Homo sapiens: one gene and its partner. Each later gene encodes a partner of the first gene's protein in a complex. Each region holds a gene or a part of one and is shown on either strand. Other genes may lie near its edges.

The links. The genes of interacting proteins can lie anywhere in the genome.
Region 2: MAGOHB (region 1) and CASC3 share a complex: the UniProt entries of both Homo sapiens proteins name them as parts of the mRNA splicing-dependent exon junction complex.

The regions. Positions count from the first base shown.
Region 1 is NC_000012.12:10,611,845-10,615,596, forward strand, and holds the start of MAGOHB (protein mago nashi homolog 2), read right to left. Parts: upstream 1,766-3,752; 5' UTR 1,689-1,765; coding exon 1,595-1,688; intron 1,135-1,594; exon of another isoform or gene 796-1,134; intron 1-795. UniProt on the Homo sapiens protein: Required for pre-mRNA splicing as component of the spliceosome. Plays a redundant role with MAGOH in the exon junction complex and in the nonsense-mediated decay (NMD) pathway.
Region 2 is NC_000017.11:40,157,492-40,161,243, forward strand, and holds part of CASC3 (protein CASC3), read left to right. Parts: intron 1-3,752. UniProt on the Homo sapiens protein: Required for pre-mRNA splicing as component of the spliceosome. Core component of the splicing-dependent multiprotein exon junction complex (EJC) deposited at splice junctions on mRNAs.

The DNA of each region.
Region 1 (3,752 bases):
ACATTGATTAGAACCACTGTTCTAGCATAAAACTTCCCTGATAATATTCAGGTACTTAATTCATGTGACCTGCTAAAAGTGATAGGGACAAGCTTGATGGTGTTCGCAGGCAGAGGAACTGAAAATAATACTACATAAAGAATAGATGAATTCAGGTAAATTTAGCTGAATTTATGGGGACGGTAAGGTTAAATACAGTGATTAAGGTTTCTAAATAATTGCAGGGCTGGCCCGGTGGCTCATGCTTGTAATCCCAGGACTGTGGGTGGCTGACGCTGGTGGATCCCTTGACCTCAGGGGTTTGAAGCCAGCCTGGGCAACATGGGGAAACCCATCTCTACAAAAAATAACATAACATAACATAACATAACATAACATAACATAACATAACATAACATAACATAATTAGCTGGGTGAGGTGGCGTGGGCCTGTATTCCCAGCACCTCGGCAGGCTGAGGTGAGGGATCACTTGCACTAGGGAGGGGGAGGTTGCAGTGAGCTGAGATCGTGCCACTGCACTCAGATCTGGGTGACAGAGTGAGACCTTGTTTCAAAATAATAATAATAATAATAATTGCAGGACTGTAGTTAACGTGAGTTCTGCCTGAAATGCTTGATACTCTTCTCCTTTCCTAATATACGTTCCTTCTCTAATTTTTTATTCTTGCTCTCACAGAACATTGTCCAAAGCCTGCTTATAGGACTTAATATGCATACTGCTTTATAGTTAAATGTCTGTGCCTCCCACCAAGACAAATCTGCTTTAGTTAAATTTGTCTTACTCATTACTGTACCTTAAAATTTTGTATTTGCTTGTTGTCCAGCACAAAACGTGCATTCAAAAAAACCCAAAAAATATATATCCAAATGAACTTTCTTGTTGCAGGTAGGCAAGATCAATGTAACATTCTCTAAGGATAGCGCTGTCAGAAAACACACTGTTGCACACTACTTGGGTAGCAGTTTCACCTCATCCTCTGCTCATACTGCTCTGGAAGTCTGTTTTTTTCTCTCAAAGGCCAAGTCTCTCATTTCGAGACTCATCTCAAGAGTGCCGTCCTCTAAGAAGATCTTCCTGACTCCCTCCTGTGGAACTTTACCTCTCCCCTCTTGCTTGGTACTCTTCATGCGTCCTATGGTGAACAATTACACGTAAACACCTAAAACATATTATTATTCTCATTTGTTAACACGTTGGGCTCCTCCCCTTCAAAGAAAACACACAGCCTAAATGAAAAAAAGGTACTGGTCACCACAAGATTTTATTCATCCACTGGACCACCCGCTGGTGGGGGTGTTTTCAAAAAAGTGCTAGCATTTTCAATCAGGGCGACGATCTAGAGTCCCTTCTGGTGCACTGTTACAGAATTCTGATTACTGTAGGTTCAACTTTTCAGTTTGTGACAGGATTAGCTTTAATTTATTGCAATTAATTCTCTTTCATTTATAAAACCAACTTATGCCTCCTCTATTCTTAAGCTCCTATTTCCTTCGAGGGAAGCAGTGGCCTCCGCCGCCTGTACCCTCCACACCACCCGGCCTCTCGGTCTCGCTCCCCTTTCCCAGCACCGCGTGCCGTGGGCCTCTTCTCACCGTCCGGCCGAAATTCGAACTCCAGAAACTCGTGCCCAAACTTGCCCTTGTGCCCTACGTAGTAGCGCAGGTAGAAATCGCTAGCCACAGCCATTTTTGTACCCGGGAAGCCCGCCGAAAACGCAGCCAACGTGTCCCCCGGCGCCTTGCAGTGACGTCATCGCGCGGAATAAGTGCGTCACCACAGGCGCTTCTCTTCCTCCTGCAGTGCAGCCCTAGACTAAAGCGTGAAAGCCGAGTATCGCGTGAGAGTCCGGAGGCGCTGAAGGGAGGGTCGCAGCGCCGTGACTTTCGCTTTACTAGGAATGGAGGCACATTGTTTTCAAAATAAAGATTACATTATACTAGCAAAGATTAGAAATGTGAGCATATGATAGTCTTTTTTATGGACTTAGAGCTAAAGGTTTGCAAGTCACTTTTACTTTTCTGGTCTCCCAATCCTTGCGGCGTTTGTGAGGTGGGTGTGGCTCTATGCCCCCTTTAACTGTGAGCTAAATAAAGATAAAGCTTAGAATCGAAATGGCAGACCGGGAATATAAACTATTTTTCTTACTTAATTTCTAACAGGGTGCTTTCCCTTTGGATAGCGATTGGTAGTTACCCGGGACCTCTAAGCCTATAATAATAGAGACAAAGTCAAAGGAATCCAACTCTTAAAACCCTCACACCCCCCACACCTGAAAAACCCTGACAGTCACCGTGCTTTTTTTAACAGCAGAACTTCTAAGGTTCTTAATTCATTCAATAAGGGTTAACTTTTAGTAGCCTGTGAAGTTTTGGCAATTTGACTTACGATACAATAATGGTTTAGCCCATTATTGTTTCTCGCCAGATAGAATTAAATTGGGGGAATGAAAGAATGCTCCAGTGTGGCGTAGTTTTTAAGGTAAGGGAAAGACTTTTACACAAAGTTTCCTTTTCAGATATTATTGATCACCCTTTTGTTATCAACACACAGAGTAATCCTATCTGTCGGTTGACAACCTTCAGTGATTTTTAGTAGAAAGTGGTGGAGAGAAGACCTGGGATTCAATCCCAACACTTAACAGCTAACTAACCTCGGGCAAGTGACTATCTCTAAGCCTGTTTGTTCATCAGCCTAATGCATATACAGCAATCTACATTGCCAAGCTCACAGAATTCTTGAGAGATCTAATGAGATAATATGTAAAATAAGCTTTAAATTTTATAAAACATTAGTTTTAACAAACATTTCCTATGTGACAGTTTGAAACTAGAAATAAGCCATTTGATCTGGTAGTCTAGAAAAGAAAGCAAACACGTAAGGCGAATACCAGCACAAGGGAGCAATTGCTATAATTAAGAATATATGTGCCATCCTGGCCAGCATGGTGAAACCCCGTCTCTATTAAAAATACAAAAAAATTAGCTGGGCGTGGTGGCGCGTGCCTGTAATACCAGATACGCGGGAGGCTGAGGCAGGAGAATTGCTTGAACCCTGGAGGCAGAGGTTTCAGTGAGCTGAGATCGTGCCACTGCATTCCAGCCTGGGCAACAAGAGCGAAACTCTGTCTCAAAAAAAAAAAAAAAAAAAAAAGAAAAAGAAAAGAAAGCCTATATGTGGCCGGGCGCAGTGGCTCATGCCTGTAATCCCAGCACTTTGGGAGGCCAAAGGGGGCAAATCACCCGAGGTCAGGAGTTCAAGACCAGCCTGGCCAACATGGCAAAACCTTGTCTTTACTAAAAATACAAAAATTAGCCAGGTTTGGTGGCACGTGCCTGTAATCCTAGCTACTCAGGAGGCTGAGGCAGGAGAATCGCTTGAACCCGAGAGGCGGAGATCGCGCAGTTGCACTCCAGCCTGGGTGACAAGAGCGAAACTTCGTCTAAAAAAAAAAAAGTGTGTAAAACATGCCGGTAGTACAGCAGAGGAAGCAAGAGCATTCTATTGCAGAGTAGGGAAATTTGAAAAAAGAGTATTGGAAAAGGCTTGTCAACGGAAGTGTTTGAATTGGACCTTGAGAAGTAAGTTCTGTGTATGTTCAGTGGGATGAAAAAGCATTCCAGGCAGAAAATGACCCGAGCAAAGACAGTGGTGTGAAAATTCATGTTTGGGGAACACTAAGAAATTCGGTATAGCTAGAGCATAAGGTTCAAGTAGAATGACTAAAAAGGCAAATTGGGCCACGTTTCCTTG
Region 2 (3,752 bases), on another chromosome or scaffold:
ATGGTGAAACCTTATCTCTACTAAAAGTACGAAAATAGCTGGGAGTGGTGGCATACGCCTGTAGTCCCTGCTACTCAGGAGGCTGAGGCATAAGAATTGCTTGAACCCAGGAGGTGGAGGTTGCAGTGAGCTGAGATCGCGCCATTGCACTCCAGCCTGGGCGACAGAGCAAGACTCTGTCTCCAAAATAAATAAATAATAAATAAAATATAAAGGACACCTATCCCTGTTGCAGTAAGAATTCCAAGTATAACTTTTGACTCACCCAAAACTTAACTACTAAGTCAACTGGAAGCCATACCAATAACATAAACAGTCAGTGAATATGTATTTTATATTTTATGTGTATTATGTACTGTACTCTTACAATGAAGCTAGAGAAAAGAAAATGTTATTAAGAAATCATTCACTATTAAGGAAACATACTATTCAGTGGAAGTGGATCATCATAAAGGTCTTCATCATCTTTGCATTGAGTAGACTTCAGAAGAGGAGGGGTTGATCTTGCTGCCTTGGGTGACAGAGGCAGTGGAAGGAGAGGCAGGCATACTTGCTGCAACTTCTATTGAAAAAAAATTTGCGTAGAAGTGGACCTGAGTAGTTCAAACCCCTTGTTCCAGCGTCAACTATACCCAGATGCTGAGCAGGGAAAAATGAGGAAGAGGGATTAATTGGCTTGTCTGGGCCAATCAGGCTGACTCAGCTCTATTTGAAGAGATGGCAGAAACTTAGAGTTTGAGAGTTTCTCAATCAGGAATTCAGGAATCTCATGTTGAGCCTCTTTGACCAGATTATTGGGGCCAGCCTGGGTCTTGAGTGACAGGGCAGTCTGGTTCAGTTCAAGTATCAGACCCAGTAGGTGAGTGAGAGACCAGTGTACATACATCTACCAGGTTTCAGATGTAACCCACCAATGAAGACTAGACCACCTTTCCTTGAACCCATTTCTCTGTGTTCTCGTAGGCCTCCCTAGCCATAGCTCTGCCTCCTTAGGTCCAAATCTGGGGAGGACAAGGAGAGGAGAGTAACCCTATTCTAAAGCCAGTTCCCTTATCATGAGCCTTAGCTGCTGCCTTTTCCTACCTAGAACTAGCCACACGTCCATTTCCTGGCCCTTTCTAATGGCCTAATGATCCTTTGTGTGTAGACCCAGCACTTTCTGTGTCATGAACAGTGTTACCCAATCTTGATGTGGTAAAAGAGGGAAGAAGATAGTAAAAAGAGAGAGAGAGCACTTGGACTAATTTTTTTCATTTCTGAAATGTGATGGTTGTACAAGTTGTCCTTTAAGGTTTTTTAGGTCAAATTTTTGTAATTATGTGATTCTGGATATGTTCTGGCTGCAGGAATTTTCTGCTGCAGAAAACCAGTACTCATAGGCATTAAAAAAAGCTACCATTTTCCAGCTTGAGGATAAGTGCATTGGGAAATCATGGAGTCATTATCAAGAGTTTGCACATCTGGTTGGGCGCAGTGGCTCATGCCTGTAATCCTAGCACTTTGGGAGGCTGAGGCAGGAGGTTCGCTTGAGCTCAGAAGTTTCAGACCAGCCTGGGTAATGTGGTGAAACTCTGTCTCTACAAAAAATACAAAAATTAGTTGGGCATAGTGGTGTACATCTGTAGTCCCAGCTACTTGTGGGGGCTGAGGTGGGAGGATTACTTGAGCCCAGGAAGTCAAGGCTATAGTCAGTTGAGATCACACCACTGCACTCCAGCCTGGGCGACAGAGTGAGACCCTGTCTCAAAAAAGAGTTGCATGTCTACTCATTCAGTTCTCATTATCTATAGACTAAAATATACATCTCCCCCCTTATGTACTACTATTTTTGAATATATGTAAATTAATAAAATGTAAACTTAAAGTGTTATTGAATGTATAACAGTTTGTTGTTTTTTGTTTGTTTTTGAGACAGTCTCTGTTGTCCAGGTTGGAGTGCAGTGGTGCGATCTCGGTTCACTGCAACCTCTGCCTCCCAGGTTAAAGTGATTCTCCCGCCTCAGCCTCCTGAGTAGCTGGGACTACAGGCACGCACGCATCAGTTCATTGTGTGTTTTTTTTTTTTTTTTTTTGAGACAGGATCTCTCTCTGTTGCTAAGACTGGAGCGCAGTGGCACAATTATGGCTCACTGCAACCTCTACCTCCTGGGCTGAAATGATCTCACACCTCAGCCTCCCAAGTTGCTGGGACTATAGGCGCACACCACCATTCCTGGCGAATTTTTTTTTTTTTTTTTTTTTTTTTGACAGGGTCTCACTCTTTTGCCCAGACTAGTATCAGTGGTGCAATCTTGGCTCACTGCAACCTCCACCTCCTGGGTTTAAGCAATTCTCTTGCCTCAGCCTCCCAAATAGCTGGGATTACAAATTCATGCCACCATGTCTGGCTGATTTTTGTATTTTTAGTAGAGACAGGGTTTCACCATGTTGGCCAGGCTGGTCTCAAACTCCGGACCTCAAGTGATCCACCTACCTCGGCCTCCCAGAGTGTTGGGATTACAGGCGTGAACCACTACATCCAGCCTAGCAGTTGTTTGTCATTGTATGTTTTCTCAGTGAATATCTCATGGGGATCCATGAAAATTTTTAGATCCTAAAAAGGGGTCCGCATAATCAAAAAGGTTGGGAATTTCTGCTCTAAGCCATTTTGAGATGGGAGAGTTCACAACTTACGTCAAAGTATAGTTATTAGGCACTGCATGTTTAAGAGACAATTCATGGGCCAGGTACAGTGTTCATGCCTGTAATCCCAGCCCTTTGGGAGGCCAAGGGAGGAGGATTGCTTGAGCTCAGCAGTTTGAGAACTGCCTAGGCAACATAGCGAGACCTCGTCTCTACTAAAAATAAAAAAAAATCAGCCAGGTGTGGTGGCATGTGCCTGTAGTCGCAGCTACTTGGGAGGCTGAGGTGGGAGGATCACTTGAGCCCAGGAGATTGAGATTGCAGTAAGCCATGATTGTGCCACTGCACTCCTGGGCAACAGAGCAAGACCCTGTCTCAAAACAGAAAAAAAAAAAAAGATAATTCATGGAGAGAGAGATTATCAAGGAAGATTAAGCTCCTCTTATATGTTAGGTATCGTATAGTAAGTCTCCCTTCCATTCTTATCCTCTGGGCCCATTAGAGGCTGCCGCTGTTTTTTTGTTTTTTTGTTTTGCTTTTTCGAGATGGAGTTTTGCTTTTGTCACCCAGGCTGGAGTGCAGTGGCACAAACTTGGCTCACTGCAACCTCCGCCTCCCGGCTAATTTTTGTATTTTTAGTAGAGACAGAGTTTCACCATGTTGGCCAGGCTGGTCTCGAACTCCTGACCTCAAGTGATACGCCTGCCTCGGCCTCCCAAAGTGCTGGGATTACAGGTGTAAGCCACTGCGCCCAGCCTGCCACTTTTAATAATTCTTGCATATGTTCCAGGAATACCTATGTGGATATATATGTATGTATGTGTGTATTTTTTTTAATGTGATATTTTTAAAATAGTGTCTTTTTTTTATTATTACTATTTTTTGCGACAGAGCCTTGCTCTGTCGCCCAGGCTGAAGTGCAGTGGCGCAGTCTCTGCTCACTGCAAGCTCTGCCTCCCTGGTTCAAACGATTTTCCTGCCTCAGCCTCCCGAGCAGCTGGGATTACAGGTGCCTACCACCAAGTGCGGCTAATTCTTATATTTCTAGTAGAGATGGGGTTTTGCCATGCTGGCCAGGTTGGTCTCACACTCCTGACCGCAGGTGATCTGCCTGCATTGGCCTCCCAAAA